Regions from separate parts of the Homo sapiens genome. Here all the other regions are linked to region 1. The links come from fine-mapping of genetic effects on gene expression. A gene starts in region 1. Each other region holds a variant in brackets. All regions are shown on one strand. Distances are from middle to middle.

Evidence for each region. PIP is the estimated chance that this variant, and not a neighbour inherited with it, causes the effect.
Region 2: its variant is the best candidate, but not a certain one, in a credible set for the expression of TECPR1 in whole blood (INTERVAL, PIP 0.84).
Region 3: its variant is the best candidate, but not a certain one, in a credible set for the expression of TECPR1 in whole blood (TOPMed, PIP 0.55).

The regions. Positions count from the first base shown.
Region 1 is chr7:98,250,182-98,254,420 of GRCh38, forward strand. It overlaps TECPR1 (tectonin beta-propeller repeat containing 1), which reads right to left and starts at 2,051. Exons shown (of 26, transcript NM_015395.3): 1 at 1,945-2,051; 2 at 1,213-1,367. It overlaps LOC124901706 (a long non-coding RNA gene), which reads left to right and starts at 2,178. Exons shown (of 2, transcript XR_007060448.1): 1 at 2,178-2,347; 2 at 2,703-4,239. RefSeq lists an enhancer at 1,698-2,441 and silencers at 1,758-2,147, 2,238-2,337.
Region 2 is chr7:98,060,441-98,064,679 of GRCh38, forward strand. No RefSeq gene overlaps it. Among named protein-coding and RNA genes, the nearest start is that of LMTK2, 44 kb to the right of the region's middle. The variant C/G (reference allele first, on the strand shown) is at 2,396.
Region 3 is chr7:98,079,012-98,083,250 of GRCh38, forward strand. No RefSeq gene overlaps it. Among named protein-coding and RNA genes, the nearest start is that of LMTK2, 26 kb to the right of the region's middle. The variant C/T (reference allele first, on the strand shown) is at 2,509.

The sequences.
Region 1 (4,239 bases):
AGAATCTAGTTGGTGGGGATGGGGATGCTGACTGTATAATTCTTTCAACTTGGCTGTATGTGGGAAAATCCTCAATAAAATGCTAGGGGAAGACGAAGGTTTTTTTTTTTAATTGTCACTTTCTATAGTGTTAAATATAAGTTAGCCTTCAAAGATAGCTCAGAGGCCAGGTGCAGTAGCTCATGCCTGTAATCCCAGCCCTTTCCGGGGCTGAGGTGGGAGGATCGCTTGAGCCGAGGAGTTCAAAACCAGCCTAAGCAACACAGGGAGACCCCATCTCTGTAAAAATAAAAAGTTAAAAAAAAAATTAGCCAGGTGTGGTGGCACATGCCTGTGATCCTAGCTACTTGGGAGGCTGAGGCAGGAGGATCACTTGAGCCCAGGAGTTTGAGGCTACAGTGAGCTATGATTGTGCCACTGCACTCCAGCCTGGGCAGCAGAGCGAGACCCTGTCTCAAAAAGGAAAACAAACAACAACAACAACAACAACAAAACAAAGATAGCTCAGAATTCACTGGATAAGCAAGCAGTTTAGCTAGACTCAGTCTGCAGGTTGAGCTCAATGAAAGGAGATTTTGACTTTCCTTCAAATAAATGACTAAGCACTAATTTCCTCATAGACATCATTGAATCTTCTGGGCAGTTAATGGGAGAAGACTCTGCTACAGTGAAAGGGAGGGGTGGGGGGTTGCTGTATTTACAAACTCCCTTCAGAGTAGAGACCCAGGCACCTGTCGTCACTTCCTAGCTACAGTTGACATCCGGTAACCATCCTTGGTCAGCCACACTTTCTTTCTGCCTCTGCCAAGAGGCTCCCCCTAGCTCCTCATGGGCCACTTTCTGGCTGTGAGCTGATCAGGCAACTTACACAGGGTCACTGGGTCAGAGGACTCTTGAAAGGGGGGTTGGAACATGAAGCCCCATGATTCAGGGATCCTGGGACTTGTTTGTTTTGTAGGGTTAGAGGGATGGAGGAAAATCTTCCAAATCAGCAGCCTCGAATTCACCAAGAATTTCTACAAGATGAATTTGAGTTGAACCTTCAGTCTTTCCACGAAGAAGGTCTGCTCGCCACCCTCAAAGCCATCTGCCTTTCTGTCTCAGTTTATTCACAGATCCTTTCAGAGACCAAAAAAAGCACCCAAGAGAGGCGGGGACAGAGATGTGGTAGAGGAAAAGACACAGTACAAAGAACGCTCCGCAAGCACTTACTTCCTCTGAGCCTTAGGAGTCCTACCTAAAAGGTTTCTTGCTTGTTTTTCTATTACACTGTCACTCCCATCCGGTATGCAAACAGTCGGCAATGCCTACTACAGTAGCTCGCTGGCTGCCAGGTGCAGGGGCTGTTCAAAAGCGACATCAGGGTCCTAAAAGGTGGGAAAAAGCAGCAGAACTTGCATGGTAGTTGATTCTTTCCTGAAGAATAGGGTCCGCCCAGCCCCACCGGGCAGGAGGTGTCCTGAGTCAGCCTGGCGTTCAGCCCAGTGCTGTGCACTTGGGTGACAGGTGGGGCCCCTGCACTGCCACCAGTAGCATATGTCGGAGCTCTGGGCCCTGACCATCTGCCAAAGCTAATCTTACGACAAGCAGATTTGCTCCCATCAATACCCAGGGAGAGGGATAGGCAGGCCCCTTGCTGCGTGATTCTCGAAAACAACCAGGATCCCGCGATCCGCTTCTCCTATGGCTCCAGTCCAAAGGCTGGAATGGGGGCGTCACCTGCACCAGGCAACTTCGCTAGCCTGTGGGCGTTCCAGGGCAGGGGACGGGGGCGGCACCTTCCAGGTGTGCAGGCGAGATGACAAGTGCGGTCCCTCCTTCCTCCCTCCCCGCGAGCAAACAGCCTGGGGGTGGTGGGGAAGGCGGCGTGCCCAGCCCTTCATCGCCCCATTCTTTCCCACGGCCCTGGCCGCCGCTGCAGCTGGGGCGCCACTCTGCACTCACCTGGGCCCGCGCCGGGCGGGGCGAAGTCGCGGTGGTAGGTCCTCGGCGTCCGGGAGGAGCGGACCGGCCCTCCCGGGGACCGGGCAAGAGGGTGGGCCGGAAGCGGCATCAGGCCCCGTGCCCATTGGCCAGCCTCGCCAGGACGCTGCGACCTGGGACGTGCGATTGGCTGCGGTGCGCCGCGTCGGTGCTGGCTTCGAGGTCGCGCGCCCGCCCACTTCCGGGGTCGCGCCAGGTCAGGAGTCCAGAGTCGGCTGAAGCGAGTTGCCGCGTTCTCTCTGGCGGCGCGACACCGGCCCGTGGACCGCCCGGCCGCCCTCCAGGACCCGGTCTGCAGGAGCGGAGAGGGCGGTGTGGACACCGCCTGCAGGCGAGGAGAAGGGGTGGCGGAGAGGGTACCTGGGTGCGTGGCTGTGCGGCGTCAGGAGGAGCAGGGTGTGGGCGCCCGGCCTGGGGCGTGGAGAGGACGCAGGGAACAGGTGTCTTCCTGGTATCCATCGAACTGAAACGTAGCCCTTGAGCACACACTACACTTAAAGCTTTACTCTTTCGAGGAGGAGTCCTGGAAGCATATGTGATTTTGTGACTATAGCATGGTGTGGTGTCAGTAACAGGCCCTGGATTGCTCAAACTCTATTGTCAGTGACAAAACCCAGTGTAAGCTGGCCTAATATATTAATAGTAATATGCGAGTCCTCCCGGGGTGGCGGGCACTGACGTAAGTGCTTTACTTGGGTCTTCTCATTTCATCCTCCCAGCAACCCAAAGAGCTGGCGGCGTCATTCCCATTTTACAAATGCGAACACGGGCTCAGAGATGGAGCGACTCACGTTGTAAGCGATGGAACTGGGATTTGAAAACACTGTATCCCGCCTGGCAGAAAACTGGCAAGGTTAGGATGGAGAAAGGAGAAAAAAGAAAGATGTCGGCCAGGTGCGGCGGTTCATACCTGTAATCCCAGCACTTTGGGAGGCCAAGGCGGGCGGATCACTTGAGGTCAGGGGTTTGAGACCAGCCTGGCCAAGATGGTGAAACCCCGTCTCTAGTAAAAATGCAAAATTAGCCAGGGGTGGTGGCGCATGCCTGTAATCTCAGCTACTCGGGAGACTGAGGCAGGAAAATCGCTTGAACTGGGGAGGTGGAGGTTGCAGTGAGCTGAGATCGTGCCACTGTGCCACCGCACTACAGCCTGGGCGACAAGAGCAAAACTCCTTCTCAAAAAAGAAAAAAAAGGGCATCTGATGGAAGGCTAGATACTACCCGACATTGAGCTAAACCAATGTCACCTGGTTGGACCTAGGGACCTATTCCTGCTCCCCCTCTAGTTCTGTCTCATTTCTGGGGTTGCACACAGGCTTTTCCTGGGCCTTCATGTTTGGGGAAGCCCCACACAGGCCAGCTCCAGTGGAAGAAAACGCCCCCAGAAGCCTCTTGTTCACCCCGGATGGCTCTGTGGAGTCCTGTGTCTGACCCTGACTTTAGCTTGGGCCTGAGGGACTGGCATTTGTGGACTTGGTCTGGAGATGTGGGCAGAGCCCCCCTCAAGCATAAGGGCTCAGCCAGGCACAGGGGGTGGCTCCTCAGAGGAAGATCAGGGTGCTATTAGCAGAAGGACGATGAGTGGGCCGGGCGCAGTGGTTCACGCCTGTAATCCCAGCCCTTTGGGAGGCCGAGGCGGGTGGATCATGAGGTCAGGAGATGAGACCATCCTGGCTAACATGGTGAAACACCGTCTCTACTAAAAACACAAAAAATTAGCCGGGCGTGGTGGCGGGCGCCTGTAGTCCCAGCTACTCGGGAGGCTGAGGCAGGATAATGAGGTGAACCCAGGAGGCGGAGCTTGCAGTGAGCTGAGATTGTGCCACTACACTCCAGCCTGGGCAACAGAGCAAAACTCTGTCTCAAAAAAAAAAAAAAAAAAAAAAAAGGAGGATGAGTGGTCGCTAGACTGCTGGAGAAACAGTCTAGAGGTAGGGAGCCCTGGGTTCTGTCCTGCCTGTGACACTCTGTAGCCATTTATCTCCTCTTTAGCTTTAGTTTCCACATTAAAAGAGGCATTGAAAAAAAATGAAAAAGAGGCATTGAATTAGGAGCTTTCTGTGGCCCCTTGCAGTTTTCATGTGTGGTGACAAAGTTCAATATAGTTTTCCTGAATTCAGGGGCTTGGGGACCCATGTCCCCCTATCCCGAGTTCTTTTTTTTTTTTTTTTTTTTTGAGAGGGAGTCTCACTCTGTCACCCAGGCTGCAGTGCAGTGGTGAGATCTCAGCTCACTGCAACCTCCACCTCCCAGGTT
Region 2 (4,239 bases), 190 kb before region 1:
GCACCCAGTCAGTTTTTTCTGCATTTGTTATTACTTATTTTTTAACTGACAGCTAAACTTGTATATGTTTATTGTTTACAACATGATGTTCTGAAACACATATTCATTGCAGAATGGCCAAACCAAGCCAACCAACAGGCATACGCATCACCTCACATTTGTAATTTTTGCAGTGGAAACACTTAAAATCTACTGTTTTAGCATTTTTCAAGAAAACAACATATTGTTATTTTATTTTTATTTTTTGAGGCAGGGTATCTCTCTCTCACCCAGGCTGGAGTGCAATGGCACAATCACAGCTCACTTCAGCCTCAGACTCCTGGGCTCAAGTGGTCCTCTCTCCTCAGCCTCCCGAGTAGCTGAGACTACAGGTGCGCACCACCACGCCTGGCTGATTTTTAAACTTTTTGTAGAGATGGGGTCTCGTTATTTTGCCCTGGCTGGTCTTGAACTCCCGGGCTCAAGCAATCCTCTGGCCTCAGCCTCTCACAGCACTGGGATTACAGGCATGAGCTACCTTGCCCAGCCAATATATTGGTCACCATGTTGTACAACCAATCTCTTGAGCTTATTTCTCTTATCTAACTGAAATTTTGTAAACTTTGACCAACATCTCCCAAACTTCCTCCCCTATCACTACCCCAAGCCCCCTGGTAACCTGGGCTCTGCCATATCACAGAGCAGACGATGGAATAACAGGCCATTCTACTCTGTACTTCTCTGAAATGGACTTTTTCAGATGCCCCATGTAAGTGAGATCACACAGTATTTGTCTTTCTGTGCCTGGCTTATTTCAGTTAACATAATTTCCTCCAGGTTCACCCATGTTGTTGCAAATGATAGGATTTCCTCCTTTTGTGGCTGAATAGTATTCCACGTTTCCTTTATCCATTCATCCAGTGATGGACACTTAGGTTGATTTCACATCTTGGCGATTGTGAATAATGCTGTCAATCAGGAGTGCAAAAGACTTAAAAAAGGAAAAATTTGGCCTGGCGTGGTGGCTCATGCCTGTAATCCCAGCACTTTGGGAGGCCGAGGCGGGCGGATCATGACGTCAGGAGATCGAGACCATCCTGGCTAACATGGTGAAACCCCCTCTCTACTAAAAATACAAAAAATTAGCCAGGCATGGTGGCGGGCGCCTGTAGTCCCAGCTACTCGAGAGGCTGAGGCAGGAGAATTGCTTGAACCCGGGAGGCAGAGGTTGCAGTGAGCTGAGATTGCGCCACTGAACTCCAGCCTGTGTGACAGAGCGAGTCTCCGTCTCAAAAAAAAAAAAAGGAAAAAAAAATTTAAAAGATAATGACGTCATTAACATGAGTGTGCAGATATCTCTTTGATGTACTGATTCTACTTTTTTTTTTTTTGAGACAGAGTCTCACTCTGTCATCCAGGCTACAGTGCAGTGGCACGATCTCAGCTCACCACAACTTCTGTCTCCTGGGTTCAAGCAGTTCTCCTGCCTCAGCCTCCTGCGTAGCTGGGATTACAGGCACGTGCCACCACACCTGGCTAACTTTTATATTTTTAGTAGAGACAGCGTTTGACCATGTTGGCCAGGCTGGTCTTGAACTGCTGACCTCAGGTCTCCCAAAGTGCTAGGATTACAGGCGTGAGCCACCACGCCCCAGCCTGATTCTACTTCTTTTGGCTATATGCCCAGTAGTGGAATTGCTAGATCATATGCTAGGTCATATGCTAAATTTTTAAATTTTTTGAGGAATCTCCATACTGTTTTCCACAGTGGTTCCCATGATGGCTGTACTGATTTACATTCCCACCAACAGTGTGCGAATGTCCCTTTTCTCCACATCCTCACCAACACTTAATCTTTCATCTTTTTTCAAATAGCCATTCGGACAGGTATGAAGTGATATCTCATTGTCAATTTTTTTGAGACAGGGTCTCGCTCTGGAGTGCAGTGGCTCAATCATAGCTCGTTGCAGCCTTGGCCTTCTGAGCTCAAGCAATCCTCCTGCCTCAGCCTCCCAAGTAGCTGGAACTACAGGTGCACACCATCATGCCTGGCTATTTTTTTTTTTTAATTTTTTATGGAGACGGGGTCTCACTTTGTTGCCCAGGCTGGTCCTCCCTCCTATGCCTCCCTCCATAAGGCTTTGTAAGCACTGCCAAGCAAGCTATCTCACGGGCCTTTCTTCTTTGTGCCTGTCACAAGGGCAATTTCACATTTGTTTGTGCTGTTATTTATTTGTTATTTATTTATTTATATATTTTTTGGAGACAGAGTCTCACTCTGTCACCCAGGCTGGAGTGCAGTGGTGTGATCTCAGCTCACTACAACCTCTGCCTCCAGGGTTCAAGCGATTCTCCTTCCTCAGCCTCCTGAATAGCTGGGATTACAGGCGTCTGCCACCACCCCCGGCTAATTTTT[C/G]TGTATTTAGTAGAGACAGGGTTTCACCATGTTGGCCAAATTAGTCTTGTACTCCTCAATTCAAGTGACCTGCCTGCCTCAGCCTCCCAAAGTGCTGGGATTACAGACGTGAGCCACTAAGCCCAGCCTTGGCTTGTTATTTTATCAGCACCTGTATCAGGGATCTTTGGGTGACCGAAAGCCGAACACAAGCTGACTTAAGCAAGAAGGGCATATCTTGGGTTATTCACTGAACTCGAAGTCAGGGCAGTGATATGATGGAGCAGCTTACTGACTGTGTGCAATCTCTCCCAAGCCTGAGTTCAATCAGCCTGGTGAGAATATTTACACTATGGAAATTGGCAGATGCTATGAATCAGGGCTCTCTTACCCCTCACCCCAGAGCTGATTGTTAAACATTTACCAGCACACCACTGGATGTTTATTTCAGGTATGGCTGCATACAGAGGCCAAATGATGTCACCAACCCCTGACCTCGCTTTATCTCTCTGGCTTTCCTCTGCTGGCTACTCTCAAGCAGGCTTTCCCTTTATGATATGTGACAGTGGTGACAGTTCTAGCCTGCAAGCTTCCAGGGCAAGTGAAGGGCAAGAGAAAGGACCCCTTTCTCCCATGTCAAAGCCTCATTTTGTCTCTCTAGCTCAAAGTGGATTACATATCTGTTTCTTTTCTTTAAAAACATCGTTTTTGGGCTGGGCGCAGTGGCTCACGCCTGTAATCCCAGCACTTTGGGAGGCCGAGGGGGGTGGATCACGAGGTCAAGAGATCAAGACCATCCTAGCCAACAGGATGAAACCCCATCTCTACTAAAAATACAAATATCAGCTGGGCATGGTGGTGTGCACCTGTAGTCCCAGCTACTCAGGAGGCTGAGGCAGGAGAATCGCTTGAACCCACGAGGCAGAGGTTTTAGTGAGCCGAGATTACACCACTGCACTCCAGCCTGGGTGACAGAGCGAGATTTCATCTTAAAAACAACAACAACAACAACAACAACAACAACAAAATACATTGTTTTCGTTTTTTGTTTTGTTTTTTTTTTTAGAGATGGGTCTTGCTCTGTCACCCAGGCTGGAATGCAATGGTGCAATCATAGCTCAGTGCAGCCTCGAACTCCTAGGCTCAAGCGATCCTCCTGCCTCAGCCTCCTGAGCAGCTGGGTCTACAGGCATGCACCACCACACTCAGCTAATTTTTTAAAAAAATTTTGTTGTAGAGACAGGGTCTCACTATGTTGTCCAGGCTGGTTTCAAACTCCTGGGCTCAAGCAATCCTCCTGCCTTGGCCTCCCAAAGTCCTGAGATTACAGGCATGAGCCGTCATGACTGGTAGATTACATGTCTGTTTCTAAACCAATCACTGTAGCCATTTAAAATTGAGTTGAAAAAAATATATAGCCAGGTGTGGTGGCTCACGTCTGTTGTCCCAGCTGCTCAGGAGGCTGAGGTGGGAGGATCACTTGAGCCCAGAAGTTGGAGGCTGCAGTGAGCCATGATTGTGCCACTGCATACCAGCCTGGGCAATAGAACAAGACCCCCCATCTCAGAAAAAAGGCCAGTGGCAGTTGAAAATTATTTATTGTGTGCCTACTATGTGCCAGGCACTGTTCCAGGCTCTTGAGTTTCAAGATAATCAACATAGGAAAAATCCCCTATGCCTCCAGAACTTATGTTCTAATGAAGGGAGACAGACCAAAACCAAGAATGATCAAAGTCAGGGGTTAAGAAGTGCAACAGAGAGGCTGGGCATGGTGGCTCATCCCTGTAATCCCAGCACTTTGAGAGGCCAAGGAGGGTGGATCATTTGAGGTCAGGAGTTCGAGACCAGTCTGGCTAACATGGTGA
Region 3 (4,239 bases), 170 kb before region 1:
TACACTTAATATTATTGAAATGGGCCAGGCACGGTGGCTCACACCTGTAATCCCAGTATTTTGGGAAACCTAGATGGGAGGATTGCTTGAGCCCAGGAGTTTGAGACCAGCCTGGACAACATAGCGGGACTCCATCTCTTGAAGAAAAATTTTGGGGTTGGGCACGTGGCTTATGCCTGTAATCCTAGCACTTTGGGAGGCTGAGGTGGGCAGATCACGAGGTCAAGAGTTCGAGACCAGCCTGGCCAACATGGTGAAACCCCGTCTCTACTAAGCATACAAAAATTAGCCGGGTGTGGTGGCGCGTGCCTGTAATCCCAGCTACTCGGGAGGCTGAGGCAGGAGAATTGCTTGAACTCTGGAGGTGGAGGTTGCAGTGAGCCGAGATCACACCACTGCACTCCAGCCTGGTGATAGAGTAAGAAACCATCTCAAAAAAAAAAAAAAAAGGCCGGGCACGGTAGCTCATGTCTGTAATCCCAGCACTTTGGGAGGCCAAGGGGGGGTGAATCACCTGAGGTCGAGAGTTCAAGACCAGCCTGGCCAACATGGAGAAACCCCGTCTCTACTAAAAATACAAAATTAGCCGGGCGTGGTGGCACATACCTGTAATCCCAGCTACACAGGAGGCTGAGGCAGGAGAATCACTTGAACCTGGGAGGCAGACGTTGCAGTGAGCTGAGATCGCATCATTGCACTCCAGCCTAGGCAACAAGAGTGAAACTCCATCTCAAAAAAAAAAGAGAAAAAAAATTTAATAAAAAAATGGTTAAAATGGTAAATTGTATGTTATGCATATTTTACCATAATAACAATTTTTAAAGTCTGCTCGCTCTGAGCTCAGTGTCTTCAAAAGCTCTCTGCTGGGTCCTATTAGCAGGACTAAAGGCAAGTAACATAGTGCCAAAATATCTCATCAATTCAGTCGATTCGTTGATAATTGTAATCAATACAGAGGAAAAAACTAGCCGACCCTTTCTGCACCTGTTCTCCTAGGAAAGAGCCACCTGACTCCCTAACCTGCATGAGCTGATGGCCTGGAGACATGGCTCCCCTGAGCCAGCAAACCTGACTTGTGGAAAGGTGCAACTCCTCTTACCTAGTCCAAAATTGCATAGGAGTTTTTGCTGTCTAATGACCTCAGCTGCCTTCTGAACACAGAAGTGCACACCCAGATTGGAATAAAGATGCGACAAATAGAATTCTATCTCCGTGTGTCTATACCTTGCTCAGAAACAAGGCAGAATAGCAAAATGGAAAAGCTATATGCCATCACCAGACAGCAACAATCCTTCAAGTAAGATTTTAAAAAAGAATACATGGAATGTAGCCAACCATCCCCACTAAAAATAAAACACTCCACTTCCCTCAGCCGATTCAATTATCTCTCTAAAAAAGGGCTTTTTTTTAACACCTCCCAGCAGGCAGCAGATTCAGTGAGTTGGTGAGGATAACAGTGAATAATTAAGCAACCAGTGCCCAAGGTGTGAAGGAAAACATGGACTGGCTCAACTAGGAGCAGCAGTGTCTAAGCTCCATGAATATAAATGTTTAGAAATGAATATTATTGCCTAGTGCCATCTGGAATATTTTTCATTATGTAGAGCATGTTTTGGAAAACTCTTAATGATTTCCTTTTTTGCATGCATGAGACAGGGTCTCCCTCTGTTGCCCAGGCTGGACTGCAGTGGCGTGATCACAGCTCACTGCAGCCTTGACCTCCTGAGCTCAAGCCATCCTCCCACCTCAGCCTCCCAAAGTGCTGAGATTACAGGTGTAAGCCACCGCATCCCACTAATGATTTTCTAACTGTGAAGCCATCCCTGTGACAAAGACTCTGTCCTTGACATGATATTGCTCTGAGTTGAAATTCTCACCTGGAAAATCTGCCAACGTAGGCCAAGCGCGGTGGCTCACACCTGTAATCCCAGCACTTTGGGAGGCCGAGACGGGCGGATCACCTGAGGTTGGAAGTTCAAGACCAGCCTGACCAACATGGAGAAACCCTATCTCTACTAAAAAAAATACAAAATTAGCCGGTCGCATGGTGGTGGCGCATGCCTGTAATCCCAGCTACTCAGGAGGCTGAGGCAGGAGAATTGCTTGAACCTGGAAGGCGGAGATTGTGGTGAGCTGAGATCGTGCCATTGCACTCCAGCCTGGCTGGACTTCGCTTTTCGCAACAATAGCAAAACTCTGCTCAAAAAAAGAAGAAAAAAAAAGAACATCTGCCAACGTAAACATAAAAACAGACACGCAAACAACAGTCCTCCCTTTTGCCTATTAAATAATTGAGGTTCATTACAAAAAAATGAGAACCTTTGAAAAAAAGAAAAGAAGAAACATCCACGGTGCTATCATTTAGAGACCATCACCGTCAGTATTCTAATGTTTTGGTGATTTCCTTCCAGTTTATGAATATGCGTGAGTATAAATATGCATATGAGTATGAGATCACACGACCTCCTTTTACTAATACGGTCACATGGGCATTTTGTCTTGTTCACA[C/T]GGTCACTCCTGGTTGGGTCACATTTGCATGGTTCCTGCTTTCCTGCTTTTTACAGCCTTTGACCTCTGTCCTCTGGCTGGAATACTCTCACCTTCCTTATGTTTTCCAACCTTGTCCAACCTCACCAAGATGTGATTCTCTGCTATTTATGCCTCTCTGAAATGTACATTTTACGTTAAATATATATGAATATATATATAAATATATATATGAATATATATAAATATATATATAAATATATATATGAATATATATATTCATATATATATAAATATATATATGAATATATATTTTGAAACAGAGTCTCTCTCCGTCACCCAGGCTGGGGTGTTTTGGCACAATCTCAGCTCACTGCAACCTCTGCCTCCTGGGTTCAAGTGATTCTCCTGCCTCAGCCTCCAGAGTAGCTGGGATTACAGGCACGCGCCACCATGCCTGGCTAATTTTTGTATTTTTAGCAGAGATGGGGTTTCACTAAGTTGGCCAGGCTGGTCTCAAACCCCTGACCTCAAGTGATCTGCACATGTCGGCCTCCCAAAGTGTTAGGATTATAGGCGTGAGCTACCACGCCCAGCTCATTTCACATGGTCTTGACCTCATGGCTGCATTGGAGTTTCTTTTTTTTTTTTTTTTCGAGACAGAGTCTCACTGTGTCACCCAGGCTGGAGTGCAGTGGCACGGTCTTGGCTCACTGCAACCTCCGCCTCCCGGGTTCACGCCATTCTCCTGCCTCAGCCTCCCGAATAGCTGGGACTACAGGCGCCCGCCACCACGCCCGGCTAATTTTTTGTATTTTTAGTAGAGATGGGGTTTCACCGTGTTAGCCAGGATGGTCTCGATCTCCTGACCCCGTGATCCGCCCACCTCAGCCTCCCAAAGTGCTGGGATTACAGGCGTGGGCCACCATGCCCGGCCTGCATTGGAGTTTCTGTGCTCAGGGCCTGTACTGCACAATCAGGCCTTTCTGGGGACATAGCAGCTGACACTGCCGGACCCCAGCTCTCTGGCCAGGTCTCTGGCTCCCATGGACAGCCTCTCCAGAGAGTCACCATTCACTACCCGTTCTCCCACCAGACAGAGATCAAATGTACACCATAAGAACTGTAGTTCACAATATCATATTGTATTTGGGATTTTTGCTAAAAGAATAGATTTTAGGTTGCTCTTGCCAAACACACAAATGGGTAACTATGTAAAATGATGAATACGTTCATTTACTTGGATATAGTAACCATTTGACTGATTATATGTATATCAAAACGTCATGTTGTACACCTTAAATATGTATAATAAAAAATAATAAAATAGCAAACAAAAAAAAAAAGCCTGAGGCCTCCCCCCTTTTTTCTTTTTATTTTCTTTTCTCTTTTTTTTTTTTTTTTTTTTTTTTGAGACAGTCTCACTCTGTCACCCAGGCTGGAGTGCGGTGGTATGATCAGGGTTCACTGCAGCCTCAACCTCCTGGGCTCAAGCAATCCTCCCATCTCAGCCTCCCGAGTAGCTGGGACTACAGGTGCACACCACCATGACTGGTTAATTTTTAAATTTTTTGTAGAGATAGGTCTTTCTATATTGTCCAGGTCAGTCTCAAACTTCTGGGCTCAAGTGATCCTCCTACCTCAGCCTCCCAAAGTGCTGGGATTATGGATGTGAGCCTCCACACCTGGTCCCATTCTTTTCTTTGAAATCCCCCCCACTTTTTTTTTTTTTTTTTGTAGCGTGAAAGAGTT